Linked DNA regions of Homo sapiens: region 2 is linked to region 1. The links come from fine-mapping of genetic effects on gene expression. A gene starts in region 1. The other region holds a variant in brackets. All regions are shown on one strand. Distances are from middle to middle.

Evidence for each region. PIP is the estimated chance that this variant, and not a neighbour inherited with it, causes the effect.
Region 2: its variant is fine-mapped to the expression of PCDH1 in whole blood (INTERVAL, PIP 0.94).

Annotation. Positions count from the first base shown.
Region 1 is chr5:141,871,865-141,886,510 of GRCh38, forward strand. PCDH1 (protocadherin 1) reads right to left here and starts at 6,546. Exons shown (of 5, transcript NM_032420.5): 1 at 6,359-6,546. The coding sequence starts at 6,398. RefSeq lists enhancers at 1,019-1,741, 4,844-5,528, 5,795-6,544, 10,574-11,456.
Region 2 is chr5:141,846,565-141,861,210 of GRCh38, forward strand. PCDH1 (protocadherin 1) reads right to left here. Exons shown (of 5, transcript NM_032420.5): 4 at 10,688-10,907; 5 at 6,526-7,872. The coding sequence ends at 7,478. Among named protein-coding and RNA genes, the nearest start is that of PCDH1, 25 kb to the right of the region's middle. RefSeq lists enhancers at 212-1,033, 1,790-2,346, 2,462-2,551, 2,905-3,461 and a silencer at 3,112-3,361. The variant G/C (reference allele first, on the strand shown) is at 5,864.

The DNA of each region.
Region 1 (14,646 bases):
CTTACCCGATTCCCCTACACCACTAAGAACTTCCTGGGGTAAAATGTAAGTCTTCTCTGTTTAGGGCACATAGTAGACTCTCAGCAAATGTTCACTGAATGCACAGAGTCTTTAGATAAATCAAACACATCCCCTCCTCTGTATGGCCTTCCCCAAGCACAGGCCCCTCCCTAAAGTGTGTGCGGCGTTATCAGATTGGTGTGAATGTTAATCTCTTTAAAGGAAGCAGGAATTTATCTGTACTCCATTTGGATCCACCCCCCACCCCCCCCCTCCACCTGCATGGACCTGGCACAAGGCTCATCTGACTACTTCAACCCCAACCCAAACACATCGTCAAAGGACCATCACCAGAGAACCTCATTTTCTTATGGGACTGTATCCTGCTGCCACCCTCCTCTGCATATACAATGTGGTATCACTGTGCACCCTAATTCTCTACAAAAGTCTTGGCAGGTGAGGCGTTATGTGGGAAGCCCACGGGAATTACCCTAAACCTGACCAAGAGAATAAATAAGGCAGTCACTGTTTGCCTCTGTTCTCTCCAGATCGAGGATACTTAAGATAGTTAATCTTCTGTGGTCACATCCTCCTTCAAGAATTTTATAAAACCATGGTACAGATTTTTCCAGGAAAAATGACTGTTCACAAATTTTAGCCGCTAATTCAGGGGGCCATGATCTGGCAGTCAGGGCGAATGATGTGTGGCCACTCCAAGAGCTACGAATTAAGCCCCTGCCTCAGGCTTCCTCCATCTCACAGTCACAACCTGAGGCCCTATAACCTTTCAAACCTCCTAGGCAGAACAGGCACACATGCTTGTGAGACTACCTCCGCTCCCCACACGCTCTTTCTCACCCTGAGGAGTTGTCTTACCTTCAACCAGCAAAAGAACCAATTAAGGACTGTGGTATCTAACCTCTGAATTGGAAAGAGAAGGAGAACCACAGGATAATATCCAGCTCAAGGAAGGTATGGGATGGCGGGGCTGGGGAAAGGTCCCAGAAAGTAGGAGGAATGTGGGGAAAACAGGGTTGGGGGAGAGTTGCTCACAGTGGGGAAAGGAGTTGAAGAGGGCTTAGGCCTTTCAAGCATCTGGAGAGTTTCTTCAAAATGAGGATTATCTGGCCCCACCCTTAGGAATCTTTATTCAGGAGGTGGGACCTAGAGAAACCCCCAAGCAATTGTGATGCAATGGTCGGACCATCTGGGTACAACTTTGAGATAATTCCAGGGAGTTAAGAAAGAGCCTGAGGTCCTGCAAACTCTTTTTTTTTTTTGAGACAGAGTCTCACTCCGTTGCCAGGCTGGAGTGCAGTGGTGCGATCTGGCCTCACTGCAACCTCCACCTTTCGGGTTCAAGCAATTCCCCTGCCTCAGCCTCCCAAGTAGCTGGGACTACAGGCACGTGCCACCACGCCCGGCTAAATTTTTTTTTTTTTTTTTTTGTATTTTAGTAGAGACGGGGTTTCACCGTGTTGGCCACAATGGTCTCGATCTCCTGACCTCATGATCTGCCCGCCTCGGCCTCCCAAAGTGCTAGGATTACAGGCGTGAGCCACCGCGCCTGGCCCGGTCCTGCAAACGTTTTTTTTTTCTTGAGACGGAGTCTTGCTCTGTTGCCCAGGCTGGAGTGCAGGGGCGCGATCCCGGCTCACTGCAAGCTCCGCCTGCCAGGTTCACGCCATTCTCCTGCCTCAGCCTCCCGAGTAGCTGGGACTACAGGCGCCCGCCACCATGCCCAGCTAATTTTTTTTTTTTTTTTTTGTATTTTTAGTAGAGACGGGGTTTCACCGTGTTAGCCAGGATGGTCTTGATCTCCTGACCTCGTGATCCTCCTGCGTCAGCCTCCCAAAGTGCTGGGATTACAGGCGTGAGCCACTGCGCCCAGCCCCTGCAAACTTTTATCATCACCTTTGCCATCATAATCACTCATCATCATCATCATCTCAGCAAACACTAAGATTTTATCAGTACTAAGCATTTTACACACATGATCTCTTTCCTCCCAACCCTCTCAAATGGGTAGTATTTATTATTACACTCCTTCCCATACTACAGATGATCAAATGGGGGCTGAGAAAGAATAAACTGTCTTAAGTCACAGAAGTAGTATGTGGAAGAACCAGGACTTGAGAAACAAGAATGCCTCTTCACATCCCAGAGTCTGGGGGAAAGAAACAGAAATATCTGAGGCTAGAATCTGATTCCTGTTATGTCACACCCGCCTCCCCACCATTCCTGGACTGCCAACCTTGCCCCGTAAGGAGGGAATAAGAAACAGTGGGCCTAAGGGTCAAGGAATGAACCAGCCCAGGCTTCCTAGGCTGCTGCTGTTCACCCAGGGGCCCGTAGAAATGCAGGAAGAGAGCCAGGGTGGCCTGGAAGGGCAGGAGCAGCAATAAGGAGGCCTTCCCTCACCCGTGTTCCCACCATCTCTGAACTTTGTCCCCAGCAGTTGGGCACTGGGAGTCATTAATCCCACACAGCAGCCTTTGATACATGCAGCGCCTTATCTGCCCTTCCCCGGGCCCTGGCTGCCTTCCTGGGCAACGGTGCCCTACCTCCCCCCAGTGACATGGGCACCCAGGACCCTGAGAAGCCAGAGCCTGAGGGGGAACAGGCGCAGGGACCCATGTCCCTCAGATAGAGGAGCAGAAGTGCCGTCAGGGGTGTAGGAGTAAGGGATAAGGAGGGGACGGAGTCCCAGAAAAGCTGAAGGAAATACTGTCTGTGTCAACATCTGGGAAGGGATGAGAACAGAGGTGAGAGTTCACCCGGAAACTTCACTTCCAGCCCACCCCGGGGACCAAGGTCCATTTTGCTGAGTGCTGTGGCCAGAGAAAAAACACACAGAGGCAGCCACCACTGTCCCAGTAGCCAGGTCAGCTCTGACTCCCCACCCTCACCCCAGCACTGTTACACAACGGTCACTGCCGCGGGCACAAAACACCAAGGGACAAACGGACTGTCGCGGGGAGAGGGGAAGAAAATGGGGTTGCGTGGGGTGGAGCTGAACAGAAGCCTCCCACAGAGAGCAAGTGTGCAGACCTCAGCTCCTCTCCCCTCTCTCCCACAACCCTCTATTAGCCTCTGCAGGGCTTCTGGGCACCTGCATGTCAGATCGTTGGGGTTAGAACCCTCGCTCCACCACTTCCTAGCTGTGTGACATTAACCAAGTGAATTTACTTTTCTGAACCTGTTTCCATACTGTGAAATGGAAATAATGAAACCTGCCTCTTGAAATTATTTGGGAGAATTAAATGAGATCTCATGCCTATAAGGTCTATTACATTAAGGTCTATTTACATTACATGTAAAGGACAAATCATTTTTTTTTCTAAGTCTTCTAATTGCTGAATAGACCATTTTATTTCCAGCATCGGGCACACAGTGGGTGCTCCTTGGTTCGATGAATAAACAAGCCAATCCCCTCGCTGGTTGGTAAGTCCTATGAAGGCAATGATGGTATGTCTCTTACTACTGCATCCTCACCACCCACCATGGACCCTGGCAGATAAAAGGTGCTCAATACATTGTTGAACAGAATCTCTGCACCAACTATCCTTGCTCACGGCAGGGGCAGCCCTCACCTTCTTCTTTCCCTACACCCCTCCCCGAACCCTGATTCCCACTTAGCTCCTCCCCCACCCTCGCGGCCCCCTCCTGGCCCTTCAACCCCCTTCTCAGCAATTAGCTTACTATCGCTTGCCCAGCTCCCCTGCAGAAGTAGCCACAGCAGCAGCCCCTCTGCTAAGAAGATGGCAGACCAGCAAGACACCCACTTCCAGCTGAAGTCCCTTTTGGAATTGGGAATTGGAGGTGGGTAGGAGAAGGGGTAAAAACTAAATGCGGCCAGAACTGAATCCAGACTTGCCTCCCTATCACACTGCCTCTGGCTACCTCTGGGGGCCAGTCTGCCTCTCCCCTCGATTCCACCCCATGCCCTAGTCTAGTTGTAATTACAGGTTCCAATTCCCCCAGACCTTAACGTCAATAAAGTAACACCCACCTACTCCCGCGCCCCCCACCCCCTACAAACACAGCTAGACCTCCGGCTTGTCATAAAAACTTTCTGGGCGGCCCCTTCCCTGGCAGCTCCCGAGGGTTGACCCAGAGCAGGTGCTAGAAGCCTCGCGGCGTCTTCCTGCACGAAGCGACCCAAGCAGCCCCAGTCCGCACCGCCTTGGTCAGCGGGCGCTCCCAGCACACACCCAGCGCGCGGAGCGACTCCTCCCAGAGGACGCCGAGTGTGTGTGTGTGTTGCGGAGATTAGGGGGTGGCGGGGGGGACGGCGGCAGTTTCTTGGGCTCTGGCGGCCCCACCCCCACCCCGGCAGCGCCCAGCCTCCAGGAACCCAAGGCAAGGCTAGGGCGCGGCGTGGTGAGAACGCGCTTCGGCTAGTGGGGGGAGCCCTTGCGCCCCCCGCACCCAGGCCACCGCGGGGAATCCCTCCTCCCCGGCATCTCCGGCCTCGGCCTAGGGTCCCCCGCAAGCCGGAGCCGGCGCGAGCGGCGCAGCGGGCGCCAGGAGGGGGCGGGGAGGGAGCCGGCGCCGGAATCACAAAGCCGCGAACCCGGCTAGGCGGGGACATTCTCATAAAACCGACCCTCTCGTGGCGAGCAGAGGGGGTTTTTTGCCCTACGCTCAATCCTCCAAGGCCTCAGTGCCGCCCCCAGTCTTTCCTGGCAGAAGAAATAGTAGCCGACCACTGTTGGGGAAACTGAGGCCAGAATTCTGACTTACAGAGGGTAGCTGGGGGGAAGGGGTGCGAGACCACCTCGCCTACAAATTCTGCTCCTATGCCTGCCGCGATCTCCGTTCTGGCTCCAGGGCCTGCCCGCGCACACACTGGCCTACAGCGGGGACCAGGCGGAGGGGGCGCTCAGGTGTGAGACGAACCCAGGTGTGCGGGACCCACCAAGGTGTGTGGGACCCAGGTGTGCTGGAGACCCAGGTGGCTCAGAAAACTCAGCTAAATGGCTGGAAGAGGGTCGCAATCACCGTCCCAGGCTAGCACCCTCTACAAAGGAACCTGGGGCCCCAGAGCTCCGGGGAGGCGGGATGGCTTGGCCAGCCAGGTCCAGCTTGTTCCCGGAACACCAGCCGGTTCGGCCCGGGAGTGGGGGTTGGGGAGGCGCCGACTGGGAAGCCGGCAGGCCGGCCCAGCCTTCCCGCTGTGCCGATATTTACAATAATAATGTCGCGATTAACGTGGCGGGGCGCTTGGGGCTCGCCGAACGACCCCGGCGGCTTCTCCTGCCTGAATCTGGACTCCGAGAGAGAGGAACGGAGTGTGTGTGTTTGTGTGTATGCGCTGCAGGGTGTAATGTAATGTGACACTGTTGGTTTAAGGTGTGTGTGACACCCAGTGTTAAGATGGGTGAAGCAGTGGATTCTGTGTTTGTGACCGTGAGGCGCTGCTGTAGGTGCCAATTCCTGTGTTAGAGTGTGTGCCATCAAGCGTGTGCTGAGATACTGGGTTGTGTGTTTGTGTGGGTGCAGTAGAGGGGTGCAAGGAGACCTGTGCTGTGTACCTATGTTCTGGCCAAGAAGTGGGTAAGATGATATATGCTAGGGTGTGTTCCTTAAAGGAATGTGGGGGGTGGCTAGGTTTTGAGGGTTCATCTAGTGAACTGTGGCTGTGACACTCGTACATGAGGGCACGAGATTGTGTTTGTGTGTCCACGTCGCGGGGTGTCACACCCGGTTGTGTTATTGCTCTGTAAAGCCACGGGTTGTGTGTCGGTGCTGCTGATCGTGCAGACACTGAAGCGGATTCTGAGCTGGCGACGGTGCCCCAGTGGGCGCTGGTGTGCGGGAGGTATGTCTGTGTGCACATATGCAGGGATGTATGTATGTGTGTATATATGTCCACGGTCTGGCCCTCTGGGTGCCCGCGAGAAGCTGGAAGCGGCTGAGTGAGCCGAGGTAGTTGCCCAACAAGTGTGTATGTATGTGTTGTGGACAACGGTCCTTGCTTGCTCCGTCCTCCGGGAGACCCCCACCAAACTGGGGGCCGCGCGCTTCCCCAAACCCATCCTCCACGCCGCGCGCTCCTGGAGTCTCCTTATCCCCGTCTCTCCGAGCGCGCCCAGGTTTGGGACGCGGGGACTAGGGTTCTGCTCAGCACCCCCTCCCCTCCCTCGGCTTCTCGCCGCGGACCTGGGAGGACGGAATCCCTCAGCCGCATCCCCTGCTATGGGCTCCCAGCAGCCCCCACCTCAGCCCCCTCGCGCCGAGCTCGTGTTGGGCCCCCGCGGCCTCGCTCCGCCGAGCGCCCCTCCCTCAGCTCCCGCCGGCCATGACCGCTTCGGGCCCCAAGCCGCTGCTGCCTCCACCGCCGCCGGATCCTTACCCGCCTCCGGGCAGCGCCGGCCGCCCGCCCCGCTGTCCATGAGCCGCCGCCGGCCCCGGCCTGGGCTGCGGCTCCGCACGGCTGGGGCTGGAGCTGCAGTTCGGGCTCCGGCTCCGGCTCCGGCTGGCTCTGGGCGCAGCAGCCCGGCGGCTTTGCGTCCGCGCCGCGCTCCCGCTCCCCGAGTGTGTGAGGCGGCGGCGGCGGCGGCGGCGGCGGCGGCGGCGGCGGCGGAGCCAGCAGAGAGCGGAGCGCACAGCCCGGCCCGCCCCCTCCCTCCCCCCTCCCTCCCGGCCCGCCCGCCTCCCCGCCCCCCCTCCGGCCGGGAGGTGGAGCTCGGGACCGCTCCGGTCCGGCTGGGAGGGGACCCCGAGCACCGCTCCCCAAAGCCTGGACCCCTCCCTCTGCCATCTCTTCACTGCCCGAGGCCCAGTACACAGGCCGTGCCCTCCTCTGAGCTTCACCTTACACTTATCCCACCCAAGCCTCCATCTAGGACCGCTCCTGGATTCCCCTCCTTACCCTACTCAAACACCTGTCCCCAGCTCTGTCTGCCCCCTGGGAAGTCGAGGCAAGGGAAGTGTCTCCCACAGCGCCTTCTTCCCTGGGCACCTGCTCCTCCATATCCACCCTCTTCCCGCCCAGATCCCCGATCGCCCTGTGTGGCCCTCCCTTCCCGCTGCGCTCGGGGAAAGTCCACCCCTCCCCCTCCGGCCGAAGCCGCAGAGCGGTCAGCCTCGGTGGCCGCAGCAAGCCGTGGGGGTGGGGCTATGGAGGGGACCGTGGGAGGAGGAGGCTAATGGGACCCGGGGGCTCTAGAGTGAGGATGGGGAAGATACACAAGCGTGAAGACGAAGTGCTGCTCCTGAGCTTAGGCTATTCGAGGGTCCCCTGATCACCTGCCCTCTGCACGGCGTAGTGCTGCGGCCACACGTATTTGCCAGTGACTTACATTATACAGTCACCGGGTCCCTGCCCCGCGAGGCCGCGCAGTGTCACGGCCTGTGTCACACGCCCTCGCAGTGCCACACGCTCCCTATCACACTCACACCAAATCACACACGGTGTCACACGCAGTGTCTCACACACTCCAATACTCGGTTTCTCCCATTCAGCTCTGGCTCTCTGGCGCCATCTAGAGGTCTCTGAGTAGCTTGGGAACTCCCTCTCCTGCGCTTGCGGTTTGGTAACCCAGGCTACCAAGTGTCCCAGTTCAACAGGACCTCCTGCCTTCTTCGCCTGCAGGCCCAGGCAGAGTGTTCTAGGTCAAAAGAATGAGGAAGGTTATCCCTAGCCAGGCCTAGTGCTGGGTGAGGAAAGGCTCTTGTTATGGGATGACCAGTTGTTGGGCCTCTTTTTGCCATAGCCTCTGACTCCCCATCTCTGTCCTTCCCCATTTTCCTGTTCCTACCACTCTTCTGTGCCTTTCCTCTTTCTTCTACTTCCTTCTCTTCTCAGCTCTGGCCTCTCTCGGTGGGATGCTCTTCAGGGTAAAAGTGGAATCTCTGGTTAGCTAAGAGGGCAAGCAAAGTCTGTCCAAGATCTCTCCCAGAGCAGCCCTGCTTAACTGGACTCCTTTTCTGACCTGGGCTCTGCTCTATCCCTCAGCCCCAGGAGCCCAGGGGCAGGGCTCTAGATGGGAGATGGGGTAATCTGGTGAAAGAGGGGGGTGGGTCTGTTCTGTAAGTAGCTTCTTTCTGTCTCTAGAAAGCTCATACTCTCCACATCATTGAGCACAGCTCCGAGGAGGGAATCAGTGGCCCAGAGAGAAGAAATCTTCCACAGAAGAGCTGCCCCGGTCTCCCTGCCCCCAGCGTGTGCCCGCTGCCCAATGCAGCAAACCCTCCCCAGTCTGCTTGCTGGGAGCCATTCAAAGGCTCCTCTGTTCTCCTCCCTTGCTCAGGGCTGAGCAGGATCAGCAGCCGCAGAGCTGGGCAGGAAATGCTAATCTCCCAGATGTTCGCCTCCATCCTCCCTGCTCCACCACCATCAAACTCAAATTCTGCACCAAGTGGTAGGAGCAGAACTGGGCCACAGCAGCAGCACCAGGGTGTGCCTACTCTTCTCCCTGCTCCCCAGCCCCTCCTACCCCAGCTGCCAGGCTGGGCTCTGTGCCCCTGAGTCAGGGACAATGTAGATATGAGAATTGGGGCCTTTTTTCCCCAGGAAAGAGGGCAGGTGAGCAAGCAGGGACTGGGAGGATGGTTGGGGAGCAAGGGAGGTGGCATTTGAAGAGGAGAGAAGTCAGACTTCTGGCCCTGTACCAAAGTGGGAGGAGGACCTGCTTGGCAAGTGAAGCACTGGGGGAGGCTCCTGAAACTGATGGTGCCTGAGTTCCAGCTGAGACTGTGGCCAGGGATTGGAACCAGGGTGATGCTGGGTATGGGAATGGTTGGGGTGCTTGCTGTGATATCCGTGTACCTGGGATGGGCTGTGGCTAAGTGAACTAGGATGCTGTAGGGCCTGGAACTGTAACACCAAGGCTGCTGCCTCTGATTGTACTTAGGACACTGTTGCAGTGCTCTGATGCTGGTGTGCCTAGGCTATAGCCAATAAGATTACCTGAGAAACTATCGCCAAGCTGTGTGTATATGGGTGTGTGTGTGCATGTTGAGGGAGAACTGTAACTGATAAGCTGTTGGGCCTGAAGCTATAGATATGAGGCTGGCACACCTGAGACTGGCTGTAGCTGAGAAGCTGTTCCCTGTTAATATGATGTAGATGGGACTGTAACTGGATCCATTGCCTAGGTCCTAGGAGATGAGAGGCTGTTGCGAGGAGCCTGTACCTGGGAGACAGGCTGTTACCTGGGATAGGAGCAGAGCTACTGTTGTGTATAGGACTGTAGCTGAGCTGCTATTGGTCCTGGAGCTGTAGCTGTGATGACAGCATACTGGGGATTGGCTATAGCTAAGATGCTGTTGCTCAGAATTGTGGTTGGGCTGTTACTGTGTGCTGGACTCTAGCTGGGATGCCTGCAGCTATAACTTTAAAGCTTGGGTGTAGCTAGGAGGCCATTTCCTGGTAATTTTGCTGGACCATTGTTGTGTGGGGGCTGTGGCTGAGACTCTATTGTTTAGGAGATGACAAGCTGTTCTGGGAGGCAGGATACTACCTGAGATGGAAGCTGATGTACTGTTGGAGCTGATCTACTGTTGTGCATAGGGTGGTCCCCAAGTGGCTGTTGCTGGGTCAGTGACGAGCTGGGTGGGGGAAGCCAAGTGAGTCCTGCCTTGAGGTCTGGGAGATGCCAGGAGCTCTAGGCTGGGTGGGGGCTGCTGCTCTGGGGAGGCCTCAGCAGCTGCTCTGCTGTGGAGCTGGAAAGCCTGTTTTCATTACTGTTTTAACTCTTTTTTTAACCTTGTTTTTCTCTCGGCTGCACTTTCGCTCACTCATTAATTTTGGTATTTTTCTCACGGTGCCTCAGCCCCTGTCACGGCTGCCATGGCAACAGGAGGCAGTGTGCTCAGTGCCAAAATATCTGATCAAAAAATAACCAAAATAAGCAAACACCAAGACGACTGTTCTGGGGACTATGGTCAGGGAGAGCCGATGGCTCAGATCCAGGAAACCCTAGGCTCCAGGGTACCTGTTTCACTACCCCTCTCCCCCAGGGAAGCTTTGCTGAACGTTCTGATAACCTAGAAGGCCCCTTTCCAAGGAATCCCCCACAGCACAATCTCCCAGGACTCTGAGATTTCCAATAGTTCCTGTCCAAGGGGCAGCTTTGCCTGAGGTGGGAGCATCGGGAGAGGGTGAGGGCTGGGGATCACTTCCCAGGAGCTGGCAGATGAAGCTTCTAAGAAGCTCCCTCCCTGCCCTAGCCACAAGCATCCGCACTCACTCATTCACCCACCCCTCTTCTGGCCCTTCTTGCCTTAGGCTTATCTCCCTTTCTGTGCACCCAACCCCCACTAGGCCACTTTTGTTTTCTCATAGCCCAACGTTCTGATGGGATGAACAGAGGGGAGGAAGCTGACAGTCTCCAGCCCCCTACCAACTCCTCAGTGGAGGTGCCAGAGAGGGGTACCATAAAAGTAGCTGACATTCCGAGGCCTCTGCCCACCTCTAGCTCACCTTCCTAGGGGAGATTCCTGAACATCCCTGACCACTCACACCGCACTCCAATTTTCCCTCCCACTTCTTGGGAGCCTTCTAGTTCCCTGGAGACCTCCTCTCAAGTGGGCATGTCCCCAGGAGGGGTAAAAGGATAGAGCCTCACATAAGTTAGAAATGGGCAGAGCTCTTGGTACTACCTGTCTCTTTTCCTTCTTCATCCACCACTTTCCCCTCTGAGGAGGCTTGTCTAGATGTCTGGAGCACTGGGAATTGGGGGAATGAGGAGGAGCCCCTCAACTCTGTCTCAGTCACATCACTTAATCACACCTCTCCTTCTGCCCCACCCCTCTGGCAGTGAAGGCTCACTCCCAACAGATCTCCACCCGCTTCCGGGAATGGCCAGAACTCGCCTCCTGCGTCTCTCTTTCCATTTCTATCTTCCCCTCCCCCCAAGAGCTGTAGTGGCCTTGGCCTCCTGGCAGTGCCTTCCCAGCCTGTTTCCATAGAAACTGGGTAGGCTGTGCAGTGCAAGAATCGGAGGGGAGACAGGAGCAGGAAGGAGGGACCAAGCCTTAGGGACAGCCCCCGATGAAAGGACCGAGAGAAACGGGGAGCTGCCCCATGCAAACTGAGGGTGGGACCCCGATTTGGGGAACCAGGCGGGATGGAGCGTGGAGTGGGGGGAAGAGGTAGCAAAAGCTTGGTAGCTGGCTTTGCTGCCTCCTGAGGAAGGGGCACAGAATCTCCCCTTCCCTGCCACAGGTAGTGGGGGTTCCTCCCTCCCCACCCCCTTAAAATCCTTCTTTACCAGGAACTGCCTGATCCAGATGAATCTCTTCTCCGGGGCCCACTAGTCTCTAAGAAAGGGACCATGGAATTCCTTTCTTCCCCGAAGAGCTCCCCACTCTCCCTGACCAGAGTCTCCTTGATCTGGAGGCTGGGCAGCCCCCGGGGACCCGGTGGCCGCCGCTGACCCCGTGGCATGCGGCTCTCAAAGGCCCCATTCATCTCTGGGGGCTGAAGGCGCCATTGTCCCCAGCGGGGGGTGGTGTGGGGAGTGAAGGGGTCTGGACTCAGAAGGAAGGAATGCGTCTGGAGAAGTTGCCCCCGGGGCTCCAGTCTCAAGGTCCCCACCAGATCTCCATCGGGACCCTTTCACGACCCCGAGCCCTTTCCCCAGGAGCTCCCAGCAACCTTCGCGCTTCTCCGGAGGGTGGGGTCTGCCGCGGCGCGGGGGCAGCCTCACCCCACCTCACTGCTGGACTCCGGAGAACCATTTCTGGGACCGGGAGCTGTCCAGCGCCTCGGGTCCTGACGGACCGCTGATTCGCCTAGGTGCCATCGGACAAGCGGGTGCTCAGAGCCAGCTCTGGTGGCTCGGGAGCTTTCCCCCAACCAGGCTAAGACCACTAAACCACGCCTGGCCCGGATGAGCTTGGATGCAGCTCCGAACGTGGGGATCCATCGGTGCTGAGAACTGACCTAGGGAGCACCTTGACCCCTGCCCTATCTGGGCACAATTGAAGGGCCAAGTGCCACCAGCCCACTTTCCTGGAACCCTGTCTCAGACTTGGGCAGGAAGAAGAGCCATGAGAGGTCAGGCCTTGCCTCTCCCCGCGTTCCCCATCTTTCTCTGTGCCTCTGTTTCTGTTTTCCTCCGGCTCTCCTCCCTCCTCCTCTCTTTCCTTCCCTGCTGGGTTGGGGGCTGCTGAATTATCATTTCTCAGCTCTGCTAATGTGCTCCCCGCTGCGGGAAGGGATCATAATTCTGGGAGATGATTAAGTTTCAAATTGTTTTTCTTTGTGTTGTTGAAGATGAGGCTTTAATATGGTCCTTCCTCAGCCCGGGAGCCTGCCCCCATTCCTCCACTCCTAGTACTCTCCTCACTAATAGGCTAGGTTTGGTACCATGTCTTTTGTGGTCCTTGCCAAACTTTTATGTGTATGGGGTGGTAAACGAGAGGGGTATAGACCTACCCTTTACTCAAAGGGGAATTTTTTTGTTTTTGTTTTTTTTTGTTTTTTTTGAGACCGAGCCTCACTCTGTCGCCCAGATTGGAGTGCAGTGGCGCCATCTCAGCTCACTGCAACCTCTGCCTCCCGGGTTCAAGTGATTCTCCTGCCTTAGCCTCCCGAGTAGCTGGGATTAGAGCTGCGCGCCTCCACGCCTGGCTATTTTTTTATATTTCACTAGAGACAGGTTTCACCATGTTGGCCAGGCTGGTCTCGAACTCCTGACCTCAAATAGTCTGCTCGCTTCAGCATCCCAAAGTGCTGGGATTACAGGCATGAGCCACTGTGCCTGGCTAGGAATACATTTAATATAGTGGTGAGAAACACTGGTTTGGAAGTCGGACAAGTCAACATTTAAATCCTGACTCTGCCACTTACTACTCAGGTGACCTTGGATGAGTTACTTGAACTGTCTGAGCCTCCGTTTCTTCATCTACTAAATGGGGATACTGTGAATTACCTCATGGAGTGTTGGTGAGGATTTAAAGTGATAAATCATGTAAAGTGGTTAGCCGGGTGTACAGCTTATGGTAAAACTCAGTGAATGTTAGTAGATATTACTACCCACATACCTTACCCTGTTTGATCCTGCTTCCCATAGCCTTCCTGACTTTGTTCTTCTGTTCAATGTTTATCTAATGCCTACTGTTTTCCAGGTACTGTACAATAGAGAGTAAGTTATCCAGGAGTGAGGAAGTTGGCTTTCTTACCTATTTGTTCCTCAAACACCCCTTCCTTTACCTCCTTCCTTCCTTCCTTTCAACTGAAGTTTACTCTCATTTTACCCTCCCACCGGCTTCCAGTTCTTCCTGCATTGTTCCTACTCCATTTTTCCTTCTTTCACTGATGTCTTATCACTTCACTTTGATTCTTATCCTCCTAATACACATACATTTTTTCACCTTCTACATTATTCTTCATCCCATTTGGGGCCATCATAGTGAAAAAAAGGGCTGAATTTTCAAACTAGGAAAGAGAATTCTGTCATGCTGTGTGTATGTGTATATGTGTGTGTGTGTGTCTGAGGAACACACACATTAATTCACATTCAACAGTAACTCTATAGCTGACTTCTGAACTCCTACGTTTGAACTGTGTGCTTGTTTGCCTCTCTATCCCCTCTATTTAAGCTCTTAAAATACAAGTCTATTTCTTTGCCTGCCTACCTGTCTGCTCTGTCCTTGCCTCTCTCTCTTTTGGAATTTGTTGTTTTAAACATCTTTATTGAGATACAACTGATATACAAAGAACTACATGTATTTAATATGTATGATTTGATGAATTTGGATGTCTTTGTTATATTCTAAATGGGAATGCTTACTGGTTGTTAGTATGAGAAGCTGATTTATGATAATGTGTTTTTGTGTTTGCTTAACTGGCCTCCTACCTATCACCATACTGGTGATGGGTTCAGGATACACTACACCAAAATGTGGCAACTTGACATTTGAGAAAACAGCAGAAGCAGGAAGGTCCCTCTCCCTTCTTCCTGGAAGTGGGCCAAAAACCTCTGACCGTCTTCCTCCTTTTCTCCTGAGGTAGAACATAAAACCCTAATTCCAGAGGTATCCTCCCCATACCCAGAGGAAAGGAGCATCCTTGTCCTCAAGTTACACAGAGTTACTAAGTAGAATTTGAACAAAGAGACCTTGCTAAGTTTTCTCCAGTTCACTACCACTAGACTATACCTCCTTTGTCCAGTCATACTTCTGCTTGCCTGTCCACTCTTAATAAGAATCCCAGTCTGGCCAGGCCTGGTGGCTCACTCCTGTAATCCCAGCACTTTGGGAGGCCGAGGTGGGCGGATCACAAGGTCAGGAGTTCAAGACCAGCCTGACCCACATGGTGAAACCCCATCTCTACTAAAAATACAAAAATTAGCAGGGCGTGGTGTTGCACACCCTGAAATCCCAGCTACTCAGGAGGCTGAGGCAGGAGAATCGCTTGAAGCTGGGAGGCGGAGGTTGCAGTGAGCCAAGATCATGCCACTGCACTCCAGCCTGGGCAACAGAGCGAGACTCTGTCTCAGAAAAAAAAAAAAAAAAAAAAAAAAAAGAAAAAGAAAAGAAATCCCAGTCCATCCATTAGGGGCTTTCCTCATTTTTTTCCTTTTTTTTTTTTTTTTTTGAGACAGAATCTTGCTCTGTCGCCCAGGCTGGAGTACAGTGGCACGATCTTGGCTCACCGCAACCTCCACCTCCTGGATTCAAGCGATTCTC
Region 2 (14,646 bases), 25 kb before region 1:
GGAACCCCAGAACCCACTGGGAAAATAGCGGGCTGAGACCTGTCCTGAAACTGGGAGGGGGGTTGGGGGCAGCTATAGAACAGGTGGAAGATTAAGCTGGACAGATGGGCTGACTGATGAAGCCCACATCTCCCCAATATTACTCCAGGGGATGGGGTTGGAGGGGAAGGGGTTTGGCCCAGCAGGATGGAAACTCCCCTCCATTTTTTTCTTTTTTCTTGAGACCGAGATTCAATCTTGTTGCCCAGACAGGAGTGCAATGGTGTGATCTCGGCTCACCGCAACTTCCGCCTCCCAGGTTCAAGCGATTCTCCTGCCTCAGCCTCCCGAGTAGCTGGGATTACTGGCATGCGCCACCATGCTCGGCTAATTTTTTTGTTTGTTTGTTTGTTTGTTTTGAGACGGAGTCTCGCTCTGTCACCCAGGCTGGAGTGCAGTGGCGCAATCTCGGCTTACTGCAAGCTCCGCCTTCCGGGTTCACGCCATTCTCCTGCCTCAGCCTCCCGAGTAGCTGGGACCACAGGCGCCCGCCACCAAGCCTGGCTAATTTTTTTGTATTTTTAATAGAGACGGGGTTTCACCATGTTAGCCAGGATGGTCTTGATCTCCTGACCTCGTGATCCGCCCGCATCGGCCTCCCAAAGTGCTGGGATTACAGGCGTGAGCCACCGCACCCGGCTGTATTTTTTTTTTTAGTAGAGACGAGGTTTTTCCATGTTGATCAGGCTGGTCTCGAACTGCCCGCCTCAGCCTCCGAAAGTGCTGAGATTACAGGCGTGAGCCACCACACCCGGCCAACTCCCCTCCATTTCTACTCACTTTGCCCAGAAGGTTAGAAGAAAAGAAACCCAGGTAACTGCCCTGAGGAATCTTAGCATCTTAGAGTACTGTGGCTATGCTCTTTTCTCCCACTTCAGGGCCTTTGAAGGCAATTTCCCTGCAGTTTCCTTGTATCTGGAATGTTCTTTGCCAAGCTCTAAAACTTCAGGGTTATTTTTTTTTTTCTCTTTTTTGAGACAGGGTCTCACCTTGTTGCCCAGGCTGGAGTACACTGGCCAACCTTCAGGTTTCCTCAGGGAAGCTTCCCTGGCTGGGTAAAGCAGCCCCCTCCCCTCCCCCACCTCCAGTTATCCTCCTTCTTGTCCCACTGTTTGTTTCCTTCACAGCACTTTAACACAATCTATAATTATCTCATTTATTTGTTTATTGTCTGTCTTTTCCTCTAGAATGCAAGTTCCCAGAGAGAGAGAGTAGGCATCATGCCTGTCTTATTCAGCACCATAATGCTAGCACCTGAGACAGTGCCTGCCACTTAGTAGGTGTTAGACGTGTGATAAATAAAAAAGTGGACAAATTATCTCATTGAAGCCCCACAATAACCTTTGGTGATGGTAAGCACTATTATCCCCACCTTACAGAGGAAGAAACTGAGGCTCAGCCACCTACCCAAGGTCATGCCACTAGAAATAAGTACAGCCAAATTTCTAACGTAGGTCTCTCTGACTCCAAGTTTGATGGAAAGTGGGGACCATTCTTTTGTTTGTTTTCCGAGATGGAGTCTTGCTCTGCTGTCCAGGCTAGAGTGCAGTGGCACAATCTCGGCTCACTGCAACCTCTGCCTCCCGGGTTCAAATGATTCTCCTGCCTCAGCCTCCCAAGTAGCTGGGATTACAGGTGCGCACCACCGTGCCCAGCTAATTTTGATATTTTTAGTAGAGATGGGGTTTCCCCATGTTGGCCAGGCTGGTTTCGAACTCCTGACCTCGTGATCAGCCCACCTCGGCCTCCCAAAGTGCTGGGATTACAGGTGTGAGCCACCGCGACCAGCCAGGGACCATTCTTAACCAGCCTAAACTGCACCTGGTTCCTCTTCCTGTCTGCCTGTGTATCTCCACTCCCAACCCAGGCATCCCCAGAGAAACCTGGGGCAGGGAAGGGAGGAACACAGAATCTGGAAGAATGTAAATCTGACCTTTTCTTTTACAGGCTTAAAATCTGTAAATGGCTCCTCTCCAACCCCTCAATCCAAGCACTTTAAGTTGACCAGCAGGTCCTTAGTTCTGGCCCCTGCCTTCTTCTCCAACTTCTCCTGCCCTCCTGAGCCACCTCACCTCCTCCTCCACCTCCAGACCCTGGCACATACTCCTCCTCAGCCTGCAAGGCTGACCCCTTCCTCAGTAGCCTATCCCTCATTTGCCCTTTGAAACTCAGCTCTGGCACCACCCCTTCCAGAAAGCCTCTAGACTTTGGAGAGGACAGCGCCTTTAGGTCTCCTGCCAGAATTTCCGGCTCAAGGCAGGGCCGAACACAAGATGTGGTCATTGTTTACCTGTCTGCCTTTCCCACAGAGACTGTGTGTCATTCTTGGGGTCCAGTACCCTGTGCCGGTCTGGCACATGGGAGGGGCTCAGGAAATGTTTGTAGAATGAGTTAATCAACCAGTGACAGGATTCTGGTACCCAGTCGGCCACCACATCTCCTCCAACTTCCTTAACTCCAGACATCTTTTCCTGGGCTAGGCCTTAACAGAAGGAACTCCTCACCCTTCACTGTGGGGTCAAGTCAGGGGTGGAGACAATGCGGGCCCCTCCCCCGCTGATTCAGCGCCTCTCCTAATGAGGTGAGGCCTCAGGTTTAGGAAGGGTTGCCACACCCACTGGTAGGGGGAGGGTCTGTGATTCTGTAACTGGAGGATAGGTAGGGGGCTTCGGTTGTAGACTGAGTAGGGAGCTGACCTAAGCCGGTAGATTCAAGTACTGCCCGAGAGATCTCTGCCTTTCCGCCCCACACCCCAGTCACCCCGCGCCAGGCTCTCGGCGCGTCAGATCCCGGCCCTGCGTTCTTCATCTCCTGCCCCGCCACGCCCCCAACTGCAGATCCAACTCGGGTCTCTCCGAAAGCAGCAAGGAGCCTCGGGGTGGGCTCTATGCCCCGTGATGCTCCGCGTCTGGGAACGGATGAAGGGGTGCCAGCAACCCCCGCCGTCCCCGCTGTCGATCCGGGTTTACACGAGGCTCATCCGGGATTAGTCCCTGCGGTCGGCTAATCCCAGCGGCTGGACCGACCCCGGGGTCCGGAGCGAGGCCCACACAGTACCGGCCTAGGGAGCTAGGGCGCGGGTCGAGCAAAAGCGCGCGACGCTGGGCGGGTGTGGGGGTGGGGAGGGGCGGAGGAGGGAGCAACGCCCCGGGAGGCGGGGCCAGGAACCGGCTGATCCGGTCTCTGTTTTCCGACCTCTCCGGAGCGGGTGTTTACCCGGGAGCCGGACGGAGGAGGCCGGGGCCGGTCGAGCCCGGAAGGGGGGAGGGGAGCGCAGTCGGAGACCGAGGCTGAGACCTTTTCGGTTCCTTTCCCCTAAATCGACTTCCAACCCTCGTTCCTGAGCGTGGGAGAACGCGGCAGACAGACAGATGTCTCCCGCCCCTTATCCTATCCAGTTCCGCAATTCACACTCGTTGCCAAAGAGTGGGGAGCGGGAATGGATACACCCGGGAACGACTGCACGTCCTGCGGGCGCCCGGGGAAGAAGGCAGCGCAGCACAAAACCTCTCCTGCGGTCACCTCCCACCCCATCCTGCACCTGAGTTCTTGCGGGGAGGGGGTGCCCACAGCAGGTCGGGCCCAGAGGATCCGGCAGGGGTCACTTTGAGGTGTACGGACTAGGAGTCTATCCTCAGAACGCGTCAGCTCGACCCCATCCCCGATTAATACCAGTGCGGGTCTCAGTCTCTTGTCCCTCGCGTCCCCCAGCCCTCTCCAAGGCCTCCAGATTTAGCTCCCACTCTCCACGGGACGCAGGCCCGAGGACCCGGAAGAAGCTGAGTGGGGTCCGGTTTTCACACTTTTATTGTAAAGCTCGGGAATAATTACACGGGTCTTTCATTGACAGCTCAGCAAACAAACCGGAAACGAACCGAACCGGAGGGGGTAGGGGCGGTGCCTGCGCATGCTCGCGGCGGGGTGGGGGGGGGTGGGGGTGGGGGTGGGGGGGTCAGAGAAAGAGAAAGACAGAAAGAGACAGAAATCATTACAAATCAACGGGATTGTGCTCGCAGCGCCAGGGATGGGGTGGGGTGGGGCGGGGCGGGGGCCCTTCCCGGGAGGAGCGAGGCAGTGGGAAGTGGCACGAACCAAGAGAAACACGACCCCAATGTGGGCACCCGACGCGCCCAAAACCCCCCACCCCGACCCCCACCCCCCTACACACGAGAGAGACACGGCCCCCCTCCCCACTAGATAACCCGAGGAGACACAGTCTCCCCTCCCCATGGGCAGACACACCCGCCCGAAACCCCATGGGCGGGACACAGTCCCCCCTCCCAGAGAAGTCCCCAGTGGAGACGCCCCTTAAGAGACTTTCTCATGGCCAACACAAGCCCTCCCAACACCCGGAGACAGCCCCGACCCAGGGAAGAAATGGCTCCAGAGGCCCTACCCTCGGGAGAGAGAGGTATCCCAGGGCTCCTAGGAGAAAAGACAACTCAGAGATGCCCAGCCTCATCCTAAAGTGCTGCAGGGCAGAGAAACCCCCATAGGAGAGATGGGGGTAGGGCCAGAAACATCCCTTCCCAGACGTGTTTCAGAGATAGCCCCCTTCCCTGGGAAGAGAGATGGCCCGAAACTGACTTGCCTTAAGTACTCCCAGGAACCCTGGGAGGAAAACAGGCTCCCCAGAGAGCCTGGGTAATTGGGGGAGACATGCTCCCGTGGTCCTCAGCGGGAACACATGTCCCCCGGAGACTCCCAAGGGGAGAGATAGGGCCTAGAGAGACCCCAGAGGTGAGGGATGCCCAGAGAACTTCCCCCCACCCCGGAATGTGAAACATGCTTCAAGGACCCTAGGAGAGAAATATGTCCCCATATACCCTCCCCCTACGGAGAGACATGCCCTGAAGTAGGGGGATGGGGACCGACTAGGTCCCCTCTGGGAAGACACAGACTGGGTCAGGCTGGGTTTGAGGGGGGCTCTCCTCTGGCCAAATGTCGCCTATTGGTACATAAAACTGTACGCGACACAGGCATTGGGGAGGGGCTTCACAGACCTAGGACCCACAGGGATAGTCCCCAGTGCTGTCGCCAACCCCTGCCCACCTTTGGTTTCATCTCTCCAGTGCCCAGTTGGTGACAGACTCAGTGCCCTGGCCCCAACCAGGGGGCTGGGGGCTCTGTCTTTGCCTGTGGGAAGGGCTTCTCAGCTCTCCCAGCCATCTGGGCCACCCTCTTTCTTCTGGCTTCTCCATTGTGCAAAATGCTCCTCTGCTCTTCTGCTCAGTGCTCAGGGGTCTCTAAGACCAGGGCAAGGTACCCAGGCCACTAGGGGCTTCCAGTGGGAGTCCACTGACCCCAGGAATGCCGCCTGTCTGGACCACCTTCTCCACCAAGCAAATGGGCCTCATACAATCTTCTTGCCCGAATCCTGACCTCCAGGACCCAGGACAATCCTTGAGGCCACTGTTCCACCAGCTGGGCACCCAATACTACCAACTCCAAGACTATTGCACCTGCCCCATTTGTGCAGGGGAAAGGGGCTGTCTCTTTAACAAGCCCCAAGCCCATCTCCTGGGCCTCCCCAAGGGAAAGGAGCCTTTGGCCAACCCCTAGACCTGGCTGCTGCCACCCCATCCCATTCTACCCCTTCCCCTCTGTAGAAGGGCTTCGTATGCCAGGGCTACCAGCCTAACAATGCTCTCCTTCCTAGCACTGTCACCCCAAGCCAAGTTGGGGGTAAGGGGCAGATAAATAGGGTGATTCTTCAGGCCCCTGGCTTTTCCGGGGTGGGGGTGGGGTCTCTGGGGTACAAGAGTCAAGACCCCAGCAGCACAGCTCCCAAAGGCACCAGACGACCCCGCAGCCTGTACCCACC[G/C]CTCGCAATCTTGGACCACCTCCCCAAGCTTAGACTAAGTCAAGCAAGGGCCATACCCTGAGTCTCCAGCCTCCCAGCCTGGGCCCCTAGGGAGCTGGAGAGGTATGGGCCAAGGCAGTGGGGGTTTCTGGAAGGAAGAGGGGCTGAGGCTTTGAGATGGCCACAGTGGGAGACGGGGGCTCTGCAGGACGCCCCTTACACCCTGGCCCCCTGAGGTGAAGAAGAGAACTTCACCTCATCATGGCTGACTGGGCTTCTCTGCCCCCCAACCTCCCTACCCCCTCCCCCATGGGACCCCTGACCCTGACAAAGGGAAGCCCAACTGGAAGAAGGGGGCCTGGAGCCCAGGGTGCCCTGAGGCAGCCCTCCCACCCCCTGAGATCAAGGCAATGGTGGTTTTACAGGCTGACGGGTCAGTCATGGCAGGGGCTGGGGGTTGAGAGGGCAGGGAGGGGGCAGGATGCAGGCCCCCTATATCGGGAGCAGCACCCAGCCACCCCCTGAGCAAACCTTCCTGCTCCCAACTCACCCAACCAGGCCAGAGGCACAGTCATCCCACCCCTGTCCAGCTGCCCCCCACAGCCTCAGGGCCCCTCTGTGATGCTCATCTGGATGTGGGAGGCCAGCCTGAGCGGGGATCCCCCCAGGGCACAGCGCAACAGTTCCAAAAAAATAGAGATTTGTATTTTTAAGAAAAATTAAATAAAAGCCCAGCTCTGCTGATAGGCAAATGTTACCCCCGTCCCCACCCCCACCCACCCGTTGTTTCCCTGGCCTGCACCCCCATCCCACCATGGCCCCAGGGGTATTTACAACATGGAACAATAGAGGCCTGGGTTGGGGGGCACTGCGGCAGGGAGGAGGGGGCACAGGGCAGGTCCCCCCCCAGAGGGGTCCCCCAAGACAACACGACATCAACAAGAAAAGTTGCAAATCAGGCAGAAATGGGGACGTCATTCCAAGGTCCTTATATACAGACACTGCATGACCAGCAGGGAATGGGGGCCCAGATGGGACTAGGCGTGGGCATGTGGCAGGCAGGTGGGCCAGTCCAGGAGCAGCACGGGAAAACAAGGCCTCCGCTCCACTCCCACCCCCGTCCCTACCCCACCTTTGGTAACAAAAGCCCTTCAGGGAGCCACTGGTGGTCAAGAGTTTCCTCTGGGAGCTCCCAGGGAAAGGGGCTCCCCAGTTCAGCCCTGCTTCAGGGCTAAAATTGGGCATGCTATCCCCGCCCTGGTCGGCCATGAGGGAAACAATGAGTTAGAAGTACGCTGCCCACCCTTGACTCCACCATCTGCCCAAATCGAGGGGGTGCTCCCTGGAAGTCAAGGGAAGGAGCCCAGTCATTGCAGAGGAGCCCTCTTGGGCATCAGATGGGGGAAGCCCCATAAAGGGGAAGGGGCCCCTGGGGGCTGGGAGATGGAAATGAGGGGAGAGGACCTGGACCCTGCATGGGAGAAGGGCCAGCGTGGTCATGAGGTCAGTGATACCCCCACTTGGGGCCCTGGCCAGGAAGTCCACGCTGAAGGGGTGGAGAGTGAGGCCCTGGAATGGGCCATTTGGGAGCTGGCCGGCGGCTGGGGGAGGGGGGCCGGCCGGCCAGTAGGGGGCTCACAGGTAGATCTCGCGCTTGGCCGTCTGGGCAGATGCCGGTGTGGCTGCGGGTGGGAAGTCCGAGGTCTGGGTCAGGGGGATTTCCTCCAAGGTGGCCGAGTCCTTGCAGGAATCATGGCTACTGTGGGAGAAGGCACTGTAGGAGGGCAGGAGGCGCACGGGGGCCGTTTTGGTGTTCCGGTCTTCCGGGGGGCTGGGGCTGCCGGCGCCCGCAGGCTCCTGCCCTCCTCGGTCCTGGTAAGGCACGAAGGTGGAGAGTTTGAGGGCGCTGCTCTTGGTCCGGCGGCTGGGAGATGACTGGCCAGGCATCCAGCATGTGTCAGAGTGGCCAAACTCACTGCACTCCCGGGTACATGTGCCTGTCATGGCGACATCAGGCAAAGGGCGAAGGTCTGTAGGAGGGAGCGGGGAAGGACAATTGTCAGACATACAGCCTCTGCAAAGCTCTGCTTCATGGCCTCCCACTGGCATCTACACCCCACCTCAGGACAGGAGTATGCGCCCCTTCCTGACCGCTGAACTCACAGGCACACACACCCTCAAAGAGACACATGCCCTCCCACCATCGACCTACTGGCCTACTGTACACACGCACACGCACACACACATAATCTATCTTTTTTCTTTTTCTTTTTCTTTGTTTTGAGATGGAGTCTTGCTCTTGTCACCCAGGCTGGAGTGCAATGGCGCAATCTCGGCTTACTGCAACCTCCACCTCCCGGGTTCAAGCAATTCTTTTGCCTCAGCCTCCCGAGTAGCTGGGATTACAGGCGCCCACCACCATATCTGGTTAATTTTTGGATTTTTAGTAGAGATGGGGTTTCACCAGGTTGACCAGGCTGGTCTTGAACTCCTGACCTCAGGTGATCCACCCACCTTGACCTCCCAAAGTGTTGGGATTACAAGCATGAGCCACCGCACCCAGCCTTATCCTTTTTTTTTTCAAGACAGGGTCTCACTCCTGTCACCCAGGCTGGAGTGCAGTGGTGTGATCTTGGCTCACTGCAGCCTCAATTTCCCAGGCTCAGGCAATCCTCCCACCTCAGACTCCCAAATATCTGTGACTATAGGCATGCACTACCATGCCTGGCTAATTTTTTATATTTTTTTGTAGAGATGGGGTTTAAGCCATGTTGCCCAGGCTGGTCTTGAACTCCTGAGTTCAAGCAATCCGCCTGCCTCAGCCTCCCAGAGTGTTGGAATTACAGGCATGAGCCACCAAGCCCTAAATAGACACATTCCTTCCAGCGTCACCTACCCCCCAGTGCTCTTCTTACACACCCACCAAATCTGCCCTCAGACAGGTGCACAAACACACACTCATCTACACACTGCCTCATCTATCTCCAGACAGACTTAAATGTGCAAATCTATCCTCAGGTGGGGTTGAGGAAACCTCCATCCTCATTGAATTGATTGACACAATCAACTCTCTCTCTCTCTCCCTCTCACACACACAGATAGGCATGGATACACAAATCTACTACAGTGGGCACCTCTATCCTCAGATGAAATTGGGTACATTGCTTCCTTCAGAACCCCCTCAAGCTTCACATGCTCCCGGTGGTCCTGAACCCACCCTCCTCCTGCAAGACCTTGCTTTAAAGCCAGGGGGAAGGGACGAGCTTCTGTGTGGGGTATTCACATAGAGGCACACACTCACATCCACAAGCACGCTCATGCAGCCCCTCCCCACCTCACTCTGGCCCCTAAACCAGCCACCACCCCTGGCCTTGCCCCAGCTCCCTGCCCAGAACACCCACGGGAACAGGAGTTGGCTGCCTGACATCAGCAGTAGCCGGTGTAGTTGCTGGGCAGCGGGGGTCTCCATGGGAACGGCTGGGCCATGAGTACTTCCTGTCACAGCTGTCCCTGTCCTGCCCTTGCTCAGGGACAGCACCAGGCAGTGACCCCCCCCCACCCCCAAGGGACATGGCTAAGCAACACTGCCTGGGACAGGGGCTCCCCTGGCACCACCCACTATGGCTTGGCCTCCTGCCAGTGCCAGGTGAGGAGGGGACAGCTCTGTTGTTAACCCTCAAAGTGCCAAGGCTCTACAGCTCAGAGCAGAGTTGGGGGACGCAACATGGCTCAGAGCAGAGCATGGGCACTGGGTGGGTGAGGCTGGGTGCTGGGCAGAGTCCCACAGACCCCAGACCCCAGAGCAGTTCCCACATACCTGGCACTCTGCCTCAGGGCCTGCTCCGGCCAGCCGGCTCTGCGCGGGCACAAAAAGGATGAGACGGGCATGAGATCGCGCATGGAGGGGCGGGGTGGGGGTGGAGGGCACTCTGAGACCTAGGGCCTGGGAGGTTAGACAAGGGCCCGGGAGGTTAGACAAGGGCCCTGTGCCTGAGGCAGGGGAGTGAAACCTCCCATCTTTTGTGGAGCGAGGAGGCTTTGAGTTGAGGGAGTGGGTGGGACCCGAGGACAACTCCAACTTAGAGAGTCTTTCCATCTCAGGGGTTAGCTCGTTCACTCTCCCCCTCCACAGGCTGCCATGGACGACTTCACACATGCACACGCACTGCACACACACTGACGGCACACCTCACCATCCATTCCCATGCCGACCTCTGCGCTGGCTCACACCTCCTTTTTGCCATCACCCTCCAAATCCCTCCCAGACAGGCCTTTCTCTTCACCAGACCTCCTACCGCGCTCTTCCTCAAAGAGGTGCCAAACCTTCTCCCACTCCTCACCCCAGCATATCGTCACTCCATTCTCTGAGCCCCCTGTAGCATCCAGGGCCCAATCTCTATTCTCAAGGCCTTCCCAACCTTAGAGGACCACCACCCACCTTCTCAAGGTTTCCTCACCATTACGTGAGCTTTCTGGCCACCACACTCAGGGTCCCTGTTCCCAGGTGGCCGTGTAAACATGGTGCCGAATGCAACAGCTTTGGAGTCAGAGAAACCTGGGTTTGAATCCCTCCCAGGTCTGTCACGTTCTAGATGTATGACTTTGGGCAAGTGACTTAACCTCTCTAAGCCTCAGTTTCCTCCACTGTAAAGTGGGTGCCATAAAGTTCTCAAATCACAGAGTGGTTCTGGGGATTAAATGCGTGTATACCTGAAAGCCCTCAGCACGGTGATGATGACTGAGCACATAATAACTCAATACATAGATGATTTGTTTAAGGCCTTGTCACCATTCCCAGGCTTCCACTCATTCCTGGGGTGCCCTGACCATGGTGCTGCGCCTCACCATTCTCGGGGTGCTCCATCTCTCCTATGCTGCCATCAGGGGTGGTGCGCTCATAGTGATCCTCAGGCAGGGCCAGGGGACCGAGTCGAGGCCCTGAGGATGACTTGCTGGACGGCGTCTCAGACTCCTCCAGGCCACTGTCATAGTAACTGTGCTGGGATGGGTCCTGCAGCTCCTGGGCCTGGCTGGTGGCCGAGAAGGTGACGCGGCGGTGAGGTAACTGCAGGGAGACAGATTGTCACTACTGACCAGCCAGCTTGCCCACAGGGCCCACCACCATACCAGGCCCTAGTACAAGCCAAGCACCATCCTACTCAGGCTTCAACAGCAACCAAGAAGAGACCCAGGCCCCAGCACAGCACATTCCTCCCGAAAGCACAGGCCCCAGTGAAAGACAGCTCCTGAGTTCTAGGACCGCTCCTAGTACAGCCAAGTCCACATACTGGAAGTCCCAATACAGCGCAGGCCCCAGTGTTATTATAGCCCCTATGCTACCCCAATAACCCTCATCCAGTGCAACCGCTTGTTATAGCACAACCCTTCTAGTTCTAACCCAGCTTCCCAATATTGGCACAGCCTCCCTTTAATCCCAGAATGACCTGTAATACGGTGTAGAGCCCAATACCAGAGTAACATAATACCACCCGACTCCCCTAATTCCAGCTCAGCCTCTAAACACCAGCATAGCCTGCAGTTTCTAGAACAGCTTCCTAAAAGAAGCAGACTCCTAACTCCCAAACAGCTCACCAATACCACAACAGTTAGTTCCCTCATTTCCAAACAGCACCCTCCAAACTCCAGCTCCTCACCTGTCTCACTGCTCTTGCCACTGCCTCCTTCCAAATGAGGGAACAACCTTTCTTTTCTTATCCTGTGTTCCTCATCCCTGGTTTGTGATGTTGCAGCAGTCTGAAGACTCCCTGCTGTCGCCCCTCCCACTCAGCCCCCCATCCCCACTTCACTCCCCTCCAGAGAGGCCTGGGAGTGGAAAAAAAGGGAGGAGCCTGATAACAAACCAGGGCACCTGGGGGAAGGGGACAAAGCAGAACAATGGAAACTCCCCAGTCCTCCCGATCAGGAAATAGAATATTCACTGGAGAGGGTAGGGCTCTGCCAGGAGCCTGGACATGGGGAGAGGGCATGGCACCCATTAGGGATTAGGAAAGCTGGTCTCAAAGGGAGACTCCTTCCAGGAAATAGGAAGGAGCTTCTGGGAGGGCTGCTGGCATGAGGAGCCAGACTTGGAGGCTTGGACTGGGGACTGGGGGTCGGGGGAGTGGAACCGTGACAGGCTGCTCCCAGCCAGCAGCCCTGTATGCCTGCCACAGGTTAACGATCAGCCCTGGAACCTGGCAATCTCAACTTGGCACTTGGCACAACCAGCCAGCCACCCAAATACCCACTTGGGACTGCCACAGATTTTCCTGCCAACCAGAAATTAGGAGTTGTGGAGGGTGCAGACTCAGGGTCCCTGGAGGCCAGGGGTGAAAACAGCTAAGCCCAGGGCCCTGCTGATGAGTCTCTAAGCTCCTTCCCATCCTCCAAGACTTTGGCAGTGCTTTGTCTTACTCTATAACTCTGGATAGGAGGTTATGAAGATGGCCAGGGGAGGTGGCCCTGGCTTTGTAGACTTACCCTCCTAATAGCCCCATTCAAGGCAGCTAGGGTGGAAGAGGCTGTCAGGACAGGAGTTTTGGAGCTGCTGTGAAGGTAGCCCAGAACTGCCTCCCCACTATCCCCATTCCTGAAGATGGCTCCCACCTCATCTTCAGGAATAAGCGACCGTTCTTGGAATCCTTGTATTGATCTAAAACACTGAAGGGTCTGGGTGATGACTGATAAGGTCCCCAAAACTAACATGGATGTTTGGGGCCGGGAGGCTATAAAGGAGTGTAGTCCACCTGGTGTAGGGGTGATTAGGGTCCAGGAGGGGTCTGGGAGGCACAGGGCAACATGGTTGTTGGTGCTTCTCTTTCCAGTTTTCTTTCAAGATACTGGCCAGCAGTCCCACCTCCCTGCAGAACCCATATCTGGTAATTGAAGGCTTTGGTCCTGCCTACTAAGCAAGTCGCTTGGTCTCTTTTCCCATGATTCTTTTCCATAAAATGGAGGGTTGGGTTATACCCAACACTTAATGTTCCCTCTAATTTTATGACTATCAAATTATAAAAGCCCAGATCAAAAAATCTCTCTCAAACTCTTTGAGTCCTGAAGCTCTAGACACTTGCTGATTATTTCCAGTTGGCTCTGCCTACTGGCCCTTAAGATTCAACATGTCTGAAACCAAATGCTTCTTCAATTAGCTTCTGTATGGGCAATGATCTCATCACTATCCTATCACCCAGACTCAGAAGGCTGATGTCTACCTGAGAATCCTGGTAGCTCTCCCCTCATTCCCTATCCCTACCTCATATCCAATTATCCCTTGAATCCTGTGGGTCCTTTCTCCCTAACCTTTGCCAAATCCATCCATCCATCACCCCCATTGCCACCATCATAGTCCAACTCTTAGAGGTTCAGTCCTGTACCTTCATCTCTATGCCCTTTTAAGCCCACCATATATTCCAGTGCTCTTTCTAAAACTCAGTTCATCTAAAACACTCATGAGCTTTCAGGGACTAGTTCCTTCTGAAGAACTTTTGGTAAGGCACCTATGTCCTCTACAACCTACAGTTCTTCCAGTCTCATCTTTCAGCTTTCTCTTATGCCCCTCTTCTTGCCAGAATATTCCTTTTTCTGCCCTTTCCCTGCCTCCAACTTGGTTCACTTCTGCCGCAGGAGTTTGCTTACACGGTGACCCTGTGAGGAGGCAGGGGACCCTCCTGCCCTAATCCTGCTCATCATTGACAAGCTGACTTTCTCCTTCCAGAAGCCCATTTCCATGTCTTGTACAAGTTTTCCCATACTGTGCTCGTCAAAGGAAGGGAGGGGCAATATGGTGAAATAAATTCAGAAAACTCAAGAGGTAAACAAAATTGGGGCCAGGCACGGCAGCTCACACCTGTCATCCAAGCACTTTGGGAGGCTGAGGTGGGCAGATCGCTTGAGCCCAGGAGTTGAGACCAGCCTGGGCAACATGGCAAAACCCTGTCTCTACAGAAATTACAAAAATTAGCCAGGTGTGGTGGTGCACGACTGTAGTCCCAGCTACACAGGAGGATCGCTTGAGCCCAGGTGGCAGAGGTTGCAATGAGCCAAGATTGCGCCCCTGCACTCCAGCCTGGGTGACAGAGCAAGACCCTGTCTCAAAAAAAAAAAAAAAAAAGGTTAAACGAAGTCTAACAGGTTCCCCCTTTTTTGGAGGACTCTGCAGAGCCTTTAATAGGCTAATGTGATCATGAATTTCTTACTACCAAAACTAACTTCACCACAGAACGCCTTTTTTATAGCATAATAGGTAATAGGAGACCCGCCTGCTTTGTGTTTGAATTTGGCTGCATCACTATTTAGTTTTCACTTCTGCAAAATTAATATTAAAATGACCCATATCATAAAGAGTTATGAGCACTGATTGAACTAATTCACACAAAGTGCTTAGCATGGTACCTCACACCTAGTAAGGACTCAAAAAATGGAAGTGAGTGCCGGGCATGGTGGCTCATGCCTGTAATCCCAGCACTTTGGGAGGCCACGGCGGGCAGATCGCCTGAGGTCAGGAGCTCAAGACCAGCCTGACCAACATGGAGAAACCCTGTCTCTACTAAAAATACAAAATTAGCTGGGTGTGGTGGCACATGCCTGTAATCCCAGCTACTCAGGAGGCTGAGGCAGGAGAATTGCTTGAACCTGGGAGGCAGAGGTTGCAGTGAGCTGAGATCGTGCCATTGCACTCCAGCCTGGGCAACAAGAGCAAAACTCCATCTCAAAAAAAAAAAAAAAAAAAAAAAAGGAAGTGAGCAGTAGCAGTAGAAGTAGTTTCATGGAATAAGTTGGGAAAAGCTTTAGTAGGGCACTTCTCA